2 separate regions of the Homo sapiens genome follow, and region 1 is linked to region 2. A link means that fine-mapping ties the variant in region 2 to the expression of a gene that starts in the linked region. Tissue or cell type: Th2 cells. Region 2 holds a variant in brackets; the other region holds the start of a gene. All regions are shown on one strand. Distances are between the middles of the regions.

Region 1 (8,377 bases), 230 kb before region 2:
ATTGGGAGGCCAAGATAGGAGGGGATCACTTGAGGCCAGGAGTTTGAGACCAGCCTGGGCAACATAGCAAGATCCTGTTTCTAAAAAAAATATTTAAAATTAGCTGAGTGTAGCGGCACATGCCTGTAATCCAAGCTACTCAGGAGGCTGAGGGGGTAGGATTGCTTGAGTGCAGGAGTTAAGGCTGCAGTGAGCTGTAATTGCACCACTGCACTCCAGTGACAGTGGTGTGACAGAGAGACCATGTCTCAAAAAAAAAAAAAAAAGCTTGCCAAAACAGTGAAAGAATAAACATTTGACCAATATTATGCCAGATAGTTTGTGCATTACAGCATTTTTCTTAATAGGAAAAAATAGAAACAATCTATAGGGTCAATAGTAAAAGGTGATTGAATATATTATAATATAATATGCAATGGACCTTAAATCCAGTTGTAGAATATTTACTACATGAGCAATATTCAAGATATATATTAAAAAAAATGGAGATCAGAAATAAGATCCCATATTCTGGTTCTCTTTTCAAAAACAAAAACAAAACAAGATCCCAATTTAGTTTCTAAAAAATGTACCTATGTATGCCTAGAAAGGCTAAAGGAATATAACAAAATGTCAACAGTGGCAATATTTCAATAATGGGAAAAGACTTTATTTTGGCTTTCTTTACTTCAAAAATTTCAATAATCATGTTTATCAGAAAAATGTTATAAAAATCTGACAAATATCTCAAAATAAAGAGACATGCTATTCATCCATTACACTAAGTATTTTACTTTATATCCTTACATTAAATCATTCATTCAAATATTTTCAAGCACCTACTATGTGCTGGACACTGTTAAGCTCTGGGAATGCTAAGATATATAAAACATCCAATCAAAAATATAACTTCAATAAGGAGTAAAGTTGATGAGGTGCAGGCATATACCTGTCTCATGATCTAATTTGATTTACTTTCCCAATTAGATTACTAGACTGTTATGTGCCTGGACCTCATCAGCTTTGCTCCCTATTGAAGTTATGTTTATATAACTTTAGCTGTTATTAAGATCATATTTAAAAAAGAACCATAAGAGTAAAGTTTTAGCACGTTTTATAATTTATCATATTATAATGTCCAATGTTCTGTTACATAAACGCTACAAAACTTTTGAAATCCGTAATAAAATTCACCCCATTCATTACTTCCCAGCAGATTTTCAGAATATTAGAATAGTGGCATTCTCCTAAACATGATGCTAGAACCAATTCAGAGTCATCCATTCAGATACTCTGCTGAAGTCACAACATACTTTAGAAACCAGAGGAGATACTGCCGCCAAGGGGTTTACAGTGGAGACAAAATGCAGAGTCCTAAGCAATAGAAAAAGAATACTACAATGACTGTGTTACTGTGTTATGTGTCCAGTGACTAGTAAGGGAAAGATGAACTAAAAAAACAGCTAACTGCTGGAAAAATGGAAAGGAAGAGGAACAGTATCCATGAAACTGGATGAAAGTGGCATTTTAAGATTATTCTAGCACCAACATACAAGATGAACTGAAGAATGGAAAAGTGCAAGCAGGCAGCATAGGTGAGAAACTGTTGTAAATCAGGAACAAAGTGTAAGGAAATTAATTAATGTGGTGGAAATGGGAATGGAAAGAAGACACAATGCCATACTTACTAAAAAGAAATAAAGCTAGGTGACGATATGGGGAACAAATAAAAAGCATCAGCTGAAGATTAAAGTTTCAAGTTTAGGTAAGTGGGATAACTGACTTCCATCAAAGCAGAAAGTATGTGATGTCATATTTTTCTAGGGTGGGGTTATAAAGAATATATGGACAAAAGGTCAAAATAAGTATCTTTTAGACAAGCACAGAATTCACTTAAGACAAAGATGGGAAAGATGATCTGGCTACCCTTTCAGAAAAAAAAAAATACAGTCAACTAGAATTCCTCTATTTAACAAATATTTATTATTAACAAATACCTACTATGTCCCAGGTCCTGTGCCAGAGCAGAAATGAAGGTACACATGCGAGTGTACAAGAGCAGGCACTGCTTGACCCTGTCTTATTCACCCTAAGGTCTGGTTTACGGTCAAAGAACATTTCATGCTGTACACTGAGATATGGTGCTTTATTATTGCTACAAACATTTCATATTTTTTTGTCTGTGAGTTCTGCTTTTGAATACTTAAGTGATGATCTCCAGTGTCAATTTCTACATTTAAGCTTAAGGCAATGTGGTGAGTAGAGATAAGAACACAGATACAAAAGAGAAATTTAATTTGGGCATCATCAAATTTCTGCATTCTTAATTACCAATACTGAGACCATAGCAACTTCAACCGTAAAACAGGTTGTATTACAGTCTTCCAAATCGCAATTCAGTCCTACATTTAGATCATACGAAGCTCTGTTTTAACACTGTCCTATAGAAACATACAATTCACTTTATAAGATTCAATCTTATTTTTTGAGAGGAATTGAAAACACAGAATTGTTGCCTGAAAAATCTTTATAACTGTACATCTTTGGATTTAAACACGTACCTGCAAGTTTAAAATTCTGCTCGTTTTTTTTTAAAGAGCCTTCAGCCTGAAACCGGTCACGCTGGGGAGAAAAAGCCATTGGCTCATCCATCTGAATCCCCAAAGACGCCTCCATCACAAGCCAATTGAGATGCAAAATGCCAGCTAAGGGGTTACATCCACAGGGGGAGCAAAGCAGCTGTGAAAATTAGAACACTAGAGAAATTTAGATCACTCGCTAAACCACGCACTAAAAACATGCTACTGCCCCCCAAAGGGGCAAACATTTTCAAACGCACGATGTGTCCAAACCTCCACAGTAGGGCATACTGTGGCCTTGTCTAAGGAATTCCATGTGCTTTATTTTCACCTATCAGAAACACCGGCAGGGGGCTGCAGGGAGAATTTCCCGGCTTGGGCACCCGCGCAGCAGCAGGCGCAGTGGGAAACGGCGAGGCTGCCAGTCCGGCACAGCCAGCGGGACCGCGTGGGGGAGGGGCCGAGCGCCGGGGGCGGTTTGAAGTCAGGAAAAGAACTGAGGGAGAAAACCTTTTCGCCACTGACAGGAAGCGCCAGGAGGCTCGTCCAAGGCCCCAAGCAAGTTGACGGAGAACTGATACGACCCTGGCCACGAGTACTGGGCGGAGGAGGAGAAGGGTGAATGAATGGGAATCCGCCGGCCAGCGCTGGCCGCGAGCTCAGCCGGGAAGGACCGGCTTCCCTCGGGCCAGAGACCGAACCAGATGCTTAGTGCGCAGGCGCGCGACTTTCCCGCCGCAGGTCGGAGGGATCCGAAGGGGGGCGGGAAAAGGAACTGCACGGCGAGAAAACCGAAGTCACGATCCAGAATTCGTTCCTAATCCCTCACAATCCCGCGCCATGGAACAAACCGTCGGAAACTCACGGTTTAAGGGAGTACGACTTCTGTGGCTCCCCAGATGCCTGGGTCGCCGTCTCCAAGAGATCCCCACCTACCGAGTCGATCGGATGCGCCTGCGCAACACTTCCCGCCGCCGCTCTGGTTGCACATGCGCACACTAAAGCCCTCGACCCCGCGGATTCCGCTACTGGGCGTTTGCGCAAGAGGGTGGGGTTTCTTCCCGCCGCCTTGGCCAGCTAGAAGAGCGGTTACGGGAATGAAGCCCGTGGATGATCTTAAAAAACAGGGTGAACCATAAGGCTAAGGGCCCAGCATGATTTCCAGGAAAGAAGCTAGCTCAGAGAAGGAAAAATCTCAGGTGCTGACACATCCCTATATACGTGGCCGGCCGCACAACACATTGGGCACTCCATGGATAAAAGGCACTTTCTTGACTCTGCTTTTATTTCCTTTTCGTTGAGTGCCCTACTTCCCCGTTAAAAACAAGCAGAAAATGTAATTGCTGATTGTTTGTGGCTGTGTTAGTAGAAATTAGCACAGTGGCAGGAAGGCAGTGTATACTATTTACTGAGCCCTTGGCTATGAGGTAGGTGGGTTTTTCTAGGGGCTGGAATCATAGTGAGCAAGATAAACACCATCCCTGTAGGAAGCTAAATTCCAATGAAGCGATGACAATAACGGATGAATAAATGAACAGTATTCTTTCCGGCATTGATTACTACTTGAGGGAAATACTGACCAGGAAGGTGGCATCTAGATGGTCAGGGAAGCCCTCTCAAAGAGACCTGGATGAGAAAGAGCTGGTAGGGAGACTGTTGTCCTGGCAAAGAAAGGATAGGGCAAATGCAGAGAGAAAGAGGAACTTGGTATGTTGCAGGGGCAGGGCAGGAAAGGCCAGTGTGGGGGAAGCATAGTGAGTGAGCCGCAAGATAGTCCCAGATAGATGAAGGTGGAGAGTTAGGCAGAAGCCAGACCAGGGTCCTTGAAAGCCAGGGTAAGAAGTTTAGTGTTTGTTCTGAGTACAATTGGAAGCTATTTGAAAGTTTTAAAGCAAGGGAGTAATATGATCTATCTGTTATGAAGAGAATGGATTGTAGAGGGGCAAGTGTGGAAGCAGAGGAAATAGGATGCACTTTATGTTTAGGAGAAACATAATGGTAGTTTGGACCAGAACAATGGCGGAAGAAATAAAAGAAAGAAGACAATGGGATTTGGTGATTGGCTATGGAAAATGAAGAAAAGGGCATCATCAACAGTGAATCTTAGGTTTTGGGCTAGCATATGTGTGGGTGGTAGTGCCACATAGAAGGGAAGTCTGTGAGGTAATGGTTTTTGATTGAGTGAGGTGGAAGAGAGTAAATCAAGGATTCTAGTGTGGATACCGAGAAAGAGAAAAGCAGACCTTGACATCCAGGAGATGGCCTGGTACTACCAGCTTGGTTTGCTGTTGCTTTGAGCTGGCCTGGCAATCACAGCCAAGCATTGGTATTCTTCTGTTGAACATAAACAATTTCACAGAACATCAGACAAGACAGAGTTGTGACCGTGATAGATCAAGACAAAAGTAAGATCACTCTATAATCATATGTGAACACAGACACAACATCAACATTGCCCAAGCCATAAAAATGATCAAATATCTCCTTATCCTAGCTAATATGAGTGCCTGCTGCTTCTTTACCAATTATAGTTTTAACCTCAGTCTAGTCTTCCTTCCTTCTACATAATACTTATTAAAATACCCAATTATAGAATTATCCTTGCTTCCTTACAGCTTCCAATCCAGGCCAAAGTCCCTCTTTCTTGCACCCTTCCGTAAATCTCCTAACACAAACTCAAATTCTATAACAAGTCCTTTTTAACACCCTCTTCCTAAGACATCCCATGGTTCCCCATGGTGTGCATTCTCACGTACTGAAACAAGCAATACATCCAAGTTGCTCAGCTATAGTTGTGTTCCTGGTGGTCATTATCGGGAGGTCGTTAACAATAATCAAGTCCAAGATATGCAAGTGATGATGTCAAAGAAACAGATGAATATATTGGTCTGGGGTATAGTTCAGGGTGAAGAAATAAACTTGGCAGTTATGAATTTATAGATGAAACCTAGTCTTGGACTATACGATATTATCTAAGCAAAGATTGTAGATGGAGAGTTGGGCTATGATAACTTCCAACATTTCATAGTTGAGCAGAGGAGGAGGAAGAACCAGCAAGAGACTGAGAAGTAGTAGTCTGTGAGGTAAGAAGGTGATGTCATAGAAGTCAAGAGCAGAAAGTTTTACAATTAGAAGAAAGTGGTCAGCTATAGCAAATGCTTCACAGAAGTAGTGAGGATACAGAATTGATCAGAGATAGTCATTAGAGCCTTCAGAAAGAGCAGCTTTGGAGTGAGACAGAAAGACTATATTGAATTTATTGACGAACAAAAGATCTACAAATGGAGACAACTCTTGAGGTTTGGTTTGTTTCTTAGTTTGGTTTCTTGTCTTTATTGGGGGGTAGGGCGCACAAATAGAATAGTGGCTACAGTGTCAAATTGTTTATAAACTTTATACTAGCCGTGTAACTTGGGCAAGTTATTCAATATCTGTGACACTCCTATTTCAAAAATGTAACATGGATAAAATACTTGCTTGGTTTTGCTATAGGGATTAAATTAGATAAAGTGACATAATACATGTAAAGTGCTTGGTCCCATAGGCCTGGACATTGTTAGCTTGTATTAGTTAATTTATAATGGGTACTTTTTCCCCCTTTGTCAATGATCCCATCCCTAATACCTAGCACATGGCTGTTCACATAGTATGGATTTAATAAATGGCTATGGAATTAATGTACAATGAGAAGTTAGGTTTTATTTATTTATTTTTATTATTCATTCATTTATGTATTTACTTAGTAGAGACAGAGTCTCGCTCTGTTGCCCAGGCTAAAATGCAGTGGCATGATCATGAATCACTATAGCTCCGAGGCTCAAGCAATTCTCCTGCCACAGCGTCCCAAGTAGCAAGGATTACAGCTGTATGTCACCATGCTCAGCTAGACATTAGGTTTCAAATGGTTGGTTGCACTTATGTCTCCTGTAAGCAGATTGGAGGTGGAGATAGATTGTTTAATAAAAATTATTATTTAGAGATGTTGATAACTACATACACACAGTTTTCTTTAGGGTCAGACCAGTGCCTTTACCATTTTTCCTTCATAACATGTTTATTCTGCCTCCAGGTCTGTTTGTGCTGCATGTGCATGTGTGTGTGTGTGTGTGTGTGTGTGTGTGTGTGTGTGTGTGTCTTTTTGTCTTTTGTTTCTATCTCTGCATCCTCCAAAGTCAGTGAAGTTTTCTTTAGATAGCCTAGCCCAGGATCTGTCCCTTCCCTAACTCACGGCTGACCCATTATGGGCTGGAAGAAGTTACTAACTCAGAGTTAGCAAGAAAAGCCATGGACCTGTTTGTGCCAGTGAGATTGTGGATCTGTGCTATTGCAAAGGGATCCTGCCCTCCTAAGTGTCCTCTTGTCTTAGAGGGAGCACATGAGAACAATCTTATTAGTAGACTTCAAACTACTTAGGCACCAGGTAATCTGCATTTAGAAGCCAAGTGATTCTAAGAGTTGTCTGGGAAAACCAGATGCCCAGCTACTGGAGACCTTGAGGCCTGTGGAAATTTGAGTTGGGTGCAACTTCTCACTCTGGGAGAAATGGGGAGTCTCTGGTCAGTTGTACGGTGAACTCAGAATAGGTTCCCAGAACAACTTTCAAATAATTTTGCTCATCTCTCTCTCCATGAATGTCCCTACTAAAGGACACACCCCGCCCCCCCACACACACACCAAAAAAAAAAAAAAAAAAAAAAAAATGACTAGGAAAGAAAGAAATGACAAAGGAAAAGTTAGTGGAAGTCTTATCCCCCTTTCCACTATTATATATATAAATAGCTGACACACTGTCTTAGAACCTCCTATCTTTAAGGAATTTATTAACCTAGGATAGAAATAAAGCAGACCGGGTGTGGTGGCTCATGCCTGTAATCCCAGCACTTTGGGAGGTTGAGGCGGGCAGATAGCTTAAGTCCAGGAGTTTGAGACCAGCTTGGGCAACATGGTGAAATACTGTCTCTACAAAAAAATACCAAAAAATAAAAATAAAAGTAAAAAGGATTAGCTCAGCATGGTGGCACATACCTGTAGTCCCAGCTAATTGGGAGGCTGAGGTGGGAGGATTGCTTGAGCCTTGGGGGTTTAGTCTGCAGTGAGCTGTGATGGCACCACTGCACTCTAGCCTCGGTGACAAAGCAAGACCTAGTCTTAAAAAAAAAAAAAAAAAGAGATAAAGTAAAGGAAATACACAGCTTTTGAAACTGAACAGAAATTATTTCTTAGGGCAATGCCAAGTAAATGAAGAAATTCCTAGGTTATAAAATGAAATTCTAGCCAGGCATTATAAAGTATACCAGGACGAAACACTTAGAATTTAATGGGGAAAATTTTTATTTCAAAAACAAAATTGCAAATTATTTAAAAATCTAAAAGGTATGAATCAATTCTGAAACTACAATGAAACAGCAAGAAAATTTGAAATACTCAAAGGTCCACAAATTTACCAAAGTTTGATTTCTCAATTAGTAATGTAGGACAGAAAAAAACTGCCTACAGGATTGTTACACAAACCAAATAATATTTAAAGCTTCTAGGAGAGCTCATGGAAGACACCTAACATTTGAATTTATTTTTTCATTCAATGAATGCCTTCTCACACTTGCTGTGCCCAGCAACACAATAGGTACTTGTAATATGCAAATGACTAAAAAGAGGACTCCACTCTTAAGTAGCTTGATATATATCTAATGGCTGAAGTGGACAGTTTTCATATTTATCTTTTATGACCCAGCATGGAGCATGTCTTTCTCAGGGAAGCCTCACCAACTGAATAGGTTGAGTTCCTGGGTGCGTGCTTCCCTAGCAACCTGTACTCCAGC
Region 2 (8,377 bases):
CTAAGATCAAGAAAAAGCTGATTTAAAATATAATAAATTAAGAGTAAATCATATATTTAGATATATTAATTCTAACTTAGAGGAGTCAGGATGGAAACAATCTCTCTTTCCTGTAAATTCATATAGCTAATTTCTTAGATCCCTAAAGCATTTATTTCTAATATGTATTAAATATGTATTACATCTTGTTTACTAACTTCTGTCAGCAGTACCATCAAAATGCCATAATGTTTACTTCTTTACAGGTTTTTCAGGCTTGAGTACAAAGCAACAGAAGTGTTTTTAAACTCCACCCTCATTCTTACCTCATTTAGTAAAAAAGTTACTGATATGTGGCCATATTTGGCCCTATTTTATATATATATAATATAATGTATATAAAGTATATATAAAATATAATATATAAAGTATATATATTATATATTAGTGTATATATTATATATAAGCATATATAATATATAAGTATATATTATATATATAAAGTATATATAATATATATTAGTATATATTATATATAAAGTATATATATTATATATTAGTATATATTATATATAAAGTATATACATTATATATATTAGTATATATTATATATAAAGTATATATATTATATATATTAGTATATATTATATAAAGTATATATAATATATATTAGTATATATTATATATAGTGTATATATTATATATATTAGTATATATTATATATAGTATATATTATATATATTAGTATATAGTATATATATAAAGTATATATATTATATATAAAGTATATATATTATACATATTTAAAGTATATATATTATATATATATAAAGTATACACACACACACACACACACACCCACCAGGGAGATTATACACACACACCAGGGAGGTTGAGAGAAGCTTGTAGGTGGCTAGATGTTTCTTGTTGGGAGTAATAGTGGGGCAGGGAGTAACTTATCAAAAATATGTTTTAAAAATTACCAGGCATGGTGGTAAGTGCCTGTAGTCCCAGCTACTTGGAAGGCTGAAACAGGAGGATCTCTTGAGCCCAGGAGATTGAGGCTGTAATACTAATTATCATGCCTGTGAATAGCCATAGCACTCCAGCCTAGGCAAGATAGCAAGACCCTATCTCTTTATTAAAAAAAAAATTACGTGGATTACAAAACACTTGAGAAAGTATAAAAATCAATATTTTTGTATTGTCTGAAAGGAAGGAAACTGGATAAAAATTAATTATATTAAATTAACAATAATAAATGTAGTGACAAATGGATTTGTTTTTCTTATATTAATTTAGGAACGACTGCCAGCAAAAAACCTGGGAACCGAGAATGCAATCATCTTTGTAAAAGTAAACATACATGTGGACATGACTGCTGTGAGTTCCTTAAAACAAGTTTATTTAAAGTGTTCAAAATTGAAAGGTCTTTGGTGGATAGTAATGACATCCTAATTATGTATGATATTTATATTATGCAACTTAATAATGCAAATAATTTTCTCTCTGTGGGCAACATGAAAAAAGTAAATACTAGATTTGAAATTTTAAAGAAATTTGACTTTATAAGAATAAGATCTGAAGTTTAACCTAAAGAATCTGAAGTTTCTTTTCATAGGTAAAATTGGAGTTGCACAGAAGTCAGAAATTAAAGAGTCAACAATTTCTTCATATTTATCTGATTTAAGAAACAGGAATGCTGTTTCATCTGTTCCTCCAGTTAAACGTCTGAAGGTTAGTTTTAATAACATTTTTCCCATTGTTCTGTAGTTAAACGTATATAAATATTCTTTGTTCTGTCTGTCAATTAGGTATCCACAGTGTACTATAGAATTACTTGTGGGCTTGACTAAGAATATTACCATTATTCATAATCCATCTTCCCTTCTTTCTTCTTTCCTTTTTTCTTCTAAATCTTTCTTCTTTCCTTCCATCTTCTTTGAGCACCAAGAATATGCCAAAGTGCTAAGATACAGTGACGATTAAGACAGTCTTATTCCCAATCATAGAATTTGTAGTAGAGTGAGAGATACAAGTAAGTAAACATGCTTTTTTAATATAGTGTGATGAGTGATTCTGTGACAGAAGTACAACACAGTTAAGTTTAGACAGAAAAGGTACTCAATCCACATTTGATGGACCAAGAAAGGATTCCTAATAGATGTGATTGGGACCTGAAGGATAAGCCAAGGATGGAGGGGCAGGCACCAGAATGATCGTAGGAAGGGATAGCTAAATATTCCAAGCATAGAGATTATACAAAGGTCCAGAGGTATAAAGAAAGAGAGAGAGAGAGGGATCTTTAAAGAAACTCTTTCTCAGTAATACAGTACGTCTAGAGTTTGATTACAAGTAAAGGAGTAGAGAGAGATGAGGCTGAAGAGGCAAGTAGGAGCTAGATCATGCAGACCTTTTTGCTATTTTAAGGGATTAGACTTTATCATGAAAGTACTGAGAAGCCAATGAAAGATTTTAACCAGTGACATGATCAAAATTGTATTTTGTAAAAGTCACTCTGACTGCAATGTAGAAAAGGGATTAGAGGATGATAGAATAGGAACAAAGGGACTCATTAGGTGGTTTTTACAATAATCTAAGCAAAATAATGGCCTAGTTTAGGGTAGTGGCAATAGCAATGGAGGGAAGTGACTGGGTTAAAATATTTTTCAGAGGTAGAATCGCTACCTTGCTACTTCATTGGTTATAAGAGACAAAATAGAAGGAACAGTCAAAAATGATGCCCAGGTTTCTGGCATTAGCAACTGGGAGAAAAGTGGGGTCTCATTCAGGTAGATATTCTGAAGGAAAAGCAAGTTTGCTGAAATAGAGAACAGGATAAGTTCAACTTGGGAAACACTGAATTTAGAGGGCCTGCAAGATGTCTAGCTAAGGATGTCCTACAGACAGCTGGATATAACTGTTTGAAAATCAGGAGACAGAGCTGAGCGAGAAGTAGAAATTTGAGAGTCATTCACATGTAGATGACAATTGAAGCCACAGGAATAAATGAGATCTTTGATTGAGAAGGTGTAGTGTAAGAAGAGACCTAGTAAAGAACCATGAAGAATGCCAACATTTAGGCCAGATGTGGTGGCTCACGCCTGTAATCCCAGCACTTTGGGAGGCCGAGGCGGGTGGATCACAAGGTCAGGAGTTCGAGACCAGCCTGGCCAACATAGTGAAACCCCTGTCTCTACTAAAAATACAAAAATTAGCCAGGCATGGTGGTGGGCACCTGTAATCCCAGCTAGTCAGGAGGCTGAGGCAGAGAATTGCTTAAACCTGGGAGGCAGAGGTTGCAGTGAGCTGAGATTATACCACTGCACTCCAGCCTGGGTGAAAGAACAAAACTCCATCTCAAAAAAAAAAAAAAAAA[T/AAT]GCCAACATTTAAGAAGGGCCTGAGTGAAATATTCGAGTCAAGAACTAACCTGAGTTTCTCCTAATTCATTGATTTGGGGACTTTATGTACCAGCAGGAATTTTGTTGTTTGGCTCATGTGTTACAAGTTATTGATGTGAAACTGATAGTTGAACTTATTTTTGTTTCATTAATAGATACAGATGAATAAATCTCAAAGTGTGGACCTTAAAGAGTTTGGTTTTACTCCAAAACCTTCCCTTCCTAGTATATCAAGGTACAAATATAATGTTAATATCTAAGGTAAAATATTTATCGTAAACTCTGTTCCTGCAGGTAACCACTTATTCAGGGAAAGATAGTCACTGGCTACCATCAAGTCACAGTTATCGTTTAGTTCCATAGTGAAGCAATAACATCATAATGGTTTCATTATCTTTGATACCCTAAATTTATTTAGAACTCTGCAGTTATGAAATAACATTCATTAGATCATCTCTTCCCTAGGAAACTACCTATCCTCTGTCATTCCCTTAGGTTCTCTCTTTATAGGGAATATAAACTAAGTGACAAGAGTATACTTTAAAATGGAAATCATGTTGGTGTACAGTCTAACCTTTCCATTTAGAAGCTCAGTCCATATTAATAATATCTCAGATTTATAATACGAAAATTACACATTTGTGCATTATATTTTCTGACTTAAACAACAACATGGCCCATAAAATGAGGTATTTTTTCGTCCCATTGTATAGATGGAAAAACTGAAGTTCATATTCCTAGTTAGCAAGCAGAAGGCCTTAGGTGGTAACTCATTGTTCTTTTCCTGTATCCTGATGCCTACAGGACAATCATATATGTAATTTCCCTGCTAGATAAGGGCATTCTATATGCAGGAATGACATTCAATGTATTTAACAACTAGTACAGAACAGGAACTGACTCATCAGAATAGATGCCAGCAGTACTTCTAGAGATCCTGGCTTTTGTTATCTAACTAAGGGCATGTAAAGGAAAGTATTGGTCACTTCCATGAAACACCTATTTATTTGCTACCCAGCCTGGGTCCAGTGTATCATAGAAGTGTTAAATGGATAAATCATTATTTTTGTTTATATGAATAAATAGTTTTCAGGCTTAGATTAATTTCCATATTTTCTTTAACATTTTCATGGTTTTATCTTTATAAAGGTCAGAATATTTAAACATATCTGAATTGCCTATAATGGAGCAGTGGGATCAGCCTGAAATCTATGGAAAAGTTAGACAAGAACCATCTGAATATCAAGACAAAGGTAAATTACCATTGATACTTACTTGAGAGAGTAAATGGCTTATTATTACTTTGAATTGACGAGTAGTGTTATTGAAACACCGGCATCTGAAATTGTTATGATTATTAACTTGGCAACATTTTTCTCTTAGATTACTGAATCATTTTCAAATTCTTGGGTCTGTTATTGAGATGGTCTTACTCTGTTTGTTGTACTTTTTAAAAAAAAATCTCTTTCCTACATAATGCTATTTTAATTTAAAGATACTATGAGGAAAACCTGAGCAAATAAGGGATCCTTGGGTATATAGAGTATTAACATACTGAATGATTACATTCATATATCATTAGAATTATTTAAAATAATTTTATGTTTATAAAACTAGTCCAGTTTTACAAAATATCAATGTGACCTTGGGCAAGTTATTTAATCTCTTTGGGCTTTAGTCTTATCTTTAAGATGAAGGTATTGAACTGGGTGACCTTTAATATCTCTCCAATTCTTAAACCTATGATTCTTACAATTCTATGTTAGTATGAGAAAATAACTTAGGTTGTGGGATATAGCTAGTTTGTAATCTAGATTTGCTTTTTTATCTGTGTCCGTCATTAAATTAATGAGATAATGCATATAAATTCAACACTGCCTGGTTCATCATTACTCTGGTTCCTGCAATTAATAGAGCATAATTTCCCTGAATAATGCTATTAATAGCCAGTCTGTTAAAACATGAGACAATCCTATCCATTGAGTTATTTCTTCAAGTGGCTGTATGTAGAAATGGTAAGCTTGGGGTTTTCTGAAAATCATTTCATGTGTTTGGCATTGGCTTCTGTTGACATTCTTTTCTTCATGCTGTCATTTTTTTTTCTTCATGTTGTAACTTTTTTTTCCTCTAGTCATAATTTAAGATTTTACAGAGTCAAGGGCTGGAGTATTCACTACCTCTTGTGATACCATGGCAGCTATTAGGCCCAATAATGAGATCAAGAAAAGTTCCCTAATCTCACCTGGAGAACCAGAGCATTTATCCAACTTATTCAAAGCCTGGATGTCATTACAAAGCGGATAGGAAGTATAAAATTGTCAACCTTCTTATATTTATCTTTGTTCAACATGTAGCCCTCTAACTTACTCCTTCCTTATATTACTACATTATTACCTGTCCTTCTGCATACAAGAGCTTGTCTATCCTTCCCTCTGCTTACTTTTGTGTTATATTTACATGGTTTTCCTACTTTTCTTTCCCACTCACTATTCCAAATCCAATTTATATTATGATATTAAAGTCTCATCTAGATACTTTAACCCCCAATAATAACTCTATCCCTGTTTTACTGAGTGGGCCATTTTTTTTTTAAGAAGTTGCTGCATGGTATAGTAGTTAAGTTCGCAGGATCTGAAAACCATCTGTCCAAGTCCTAGCTCTGATATTTAGTATAACCTTTCATAATCTACTTAACCACTTTGTCTAAGTTGCTCATCTGGTTATATTTTAGGGGTTTTAGGATTAAATGAGATAATGCATGTAAAGCTGTTAGGGTTTCTGGTACTGTTAGTAATAACTAATTATGTTTATTATATTTTTCACATATTAGTCTTTGGTGGCAAAACATACTTTAAATGTATTCAAATACTGCTTTTGAGAATGTTTTTTAAAAAGCATGGCAGTTTTTATCTTCTGTATTCCAATTTCAAAAAGGGAAGAAGAAAAAATGTCACAAATTATATGAGAAAGCATGTTGAATCATAAGATTTAAATTGGAAGGGACCTTTATGCAATTTCTCATTTTATAGTGAAAGAAGCCAAGACTCCAAGAGATTAAATGACTTGCCCAAAAATTTCATATCTAATTAATGGCAAGGCCAGAAAAAGATTCCATATCTTTTGATTCCCAGCCCAATGCCATTTCTATAAAATGAAATTGACTTTTAGTGATCAGTGGAGAACTGAAAATTGAACCAGTAGTATATGAACTCTTTCAGCTTTTTGCCCCACCCCTCAACTATATATTTCCCTGTCTCTGCATCCATCTGTAACCATCTATTTGTCTTAAAAGAAAACTTATCTTTTCTTCCACTCGAGGCATATCTCTCCTCCTGTAATCTTAATTCTATCCAATCCTGCTTTCCCTGGGACTTTAGAAGATCATTATCCATCTCCTCTTTCCCATATTTTCATTGTTTCCTCTCCACTGTGTCTTTCCCTTTAGCATATAAATATGCTGAAGTCTCTTCCTTCTTCAGCTTCTGGTCATGACTTTTTTATTATAAATGATAAAAATTCTACTCAAAATGACTTAAGCACAAGAAAAGGAACCAATTGTCTCAAGTAAACTGAAAAGTATCTGGCTTAATTCTGGCTAAATCAAGGCACTCATGCCTCTGGCTTTCTCTCAATCTTTTAGCTATGCCTGTTGCTACTTGGCTTTACTTTTTAATAGGGTTTCTCACACAGCAGGTAGCCCCTAACTTACATCTTACCAGTTTAGCGCCTCAGTGGAAAAAGGTAGACTTCCCTGTTAGTTTTGGCAGACCAGAGCTCATTCTAACTGGCCTCATTTGAGTCATGTGTTTATCCCTTGATCAATCCCAGTAACCTGACGATTGGGTCGTTGTATACCTGTGGCCCCAGAGAAGGCAGGGCACCATGAATAACGGCCTTACTAGGATCCAGTAGAATTGTAGAAGCAGTTTCCTCAAAGGAAAGGGAGGGTACTCCCACTAAAAGAAGGGAAAGCATACCAGGCAGACAAAAAACAGAATTCTAGAGTCCCCATACCCTCTATCTCTTGCTTTCTCATCAAAACAAAAATTAATTGAAAGAGCAATTGACACTCAGTATGCTCATCGCTTCCTTATACCCTAGTTACTCTTTATTCATTAAAATTTAGGTTTTCTGTGTATCAGTCCTTTGAAGCTGTTTTTGTTCAGGCCATTTAGTGACTTTCTAAGTTCTGAATTCAGTGAACTGTTTTCAACTGTTAATCTCTTTGACCTCTATAGTATTTGATACTACTGGTCTTTCCTTTCTTTTGGAAATCTCTCCTTTGATTTCAGTAAAACCATTATGTTGGTCTCCTGTTACTTCTTAGACTGCATGGGCTTTTCTTCCTGTTGATGTTGCAAAAGGATTCTTTTTTCTTTTTTTTTTTTTTATTCTTCTCACTTCAAAAACTTTTCCTATACAGTATCACCCAAGCCCGTGTCTTTAATCACTGACTATGTTTTGATAATTTCTAAAGCTGTATCTCCCATCTAGACCTTTCTTTCTAACTCCAAATCCATCTGTATAATCACCTTCCTGGACATATCCACCTAACAGTTAACATATCAGACATGTCAGCATCTGAACTCTGTCTTCTTCTTACCTCACTCTACACCTTTTCTTTTTGCCTTAGCTCAATGAATGAACTCTTTACTTTGTTAAGCTGCTAAAGTGTCCTTCTAAATAGCTCACCCCACATGTAAATAATCACCAAATCTTAATTATTTTGCCTCCTGCACATCTCTCATATTTGTTATTTCCACTCTATCCTTTCTGCTGATACTCTAGCTTAAGCATTCATTCTCTCTTGTTTACTGCAATAACTTACTTTTCTCTCTGCTTTCAGTCTCATTATCCTTCAATCCATAATATTCAAAGTGATCTGACAGACATATCTGGTTGTGTAAACCTTCTGCTGAAACATCTTCAATAGTTATCCTTTACCTATAAGAAAAACAAAAAACAAAAAAATCTCCTTAATATGGCAAATAAGCTTCA

What was found. PIP is the estimated chance that this variant, and not a neighbour inherited with it, causes the effect.
Region 1: CDC7 starts here. The variant in region 2 is fine-mapped to the expression of CDC7 in Th2 cells (Schmiedel 2018, PIP 0.95).

What each region holds. Positions count from the first base shown.
Region 1 is chr1:91,495,995-91,504,371 of GRCh38, reverse strand. CDC7 (cell division cycle 7) reads right to left here and starts at 3,521. Exons shown (of 12, transcript NM_003503.4): 1 at 3,424-3,521; 2 at 2,541-2,718. The coding sequence starts at 2,655. It overlaps LOC105378856 (a long non-coding RNA gene), which reads left to right and starts at 3,524. Exons shown (of 3, transcript XR_947599.4): 1 at 3,524-5,857. RefSeq lists an enhancer at 2,680-2,879.
Region 2 is chr1:91,269,967-91,278,343 of GRCh38, reverse strand. It overlaps HFM1 (helicase for meiosis 1), which reads left to right. Exons shown (of 39, transcript NM_001017975.6): 31 at 1,282-1,362; 32 at 1,601-1,716; 33 at 3,535-3,614; 34 at 4,529-4,632. Among named protein-coding and RNA genes, the nearest start is that of HFM1, 130 kb to the left of the region's middle. The variant T/AAT (reference allele first, on the strand shown) is at 3,359.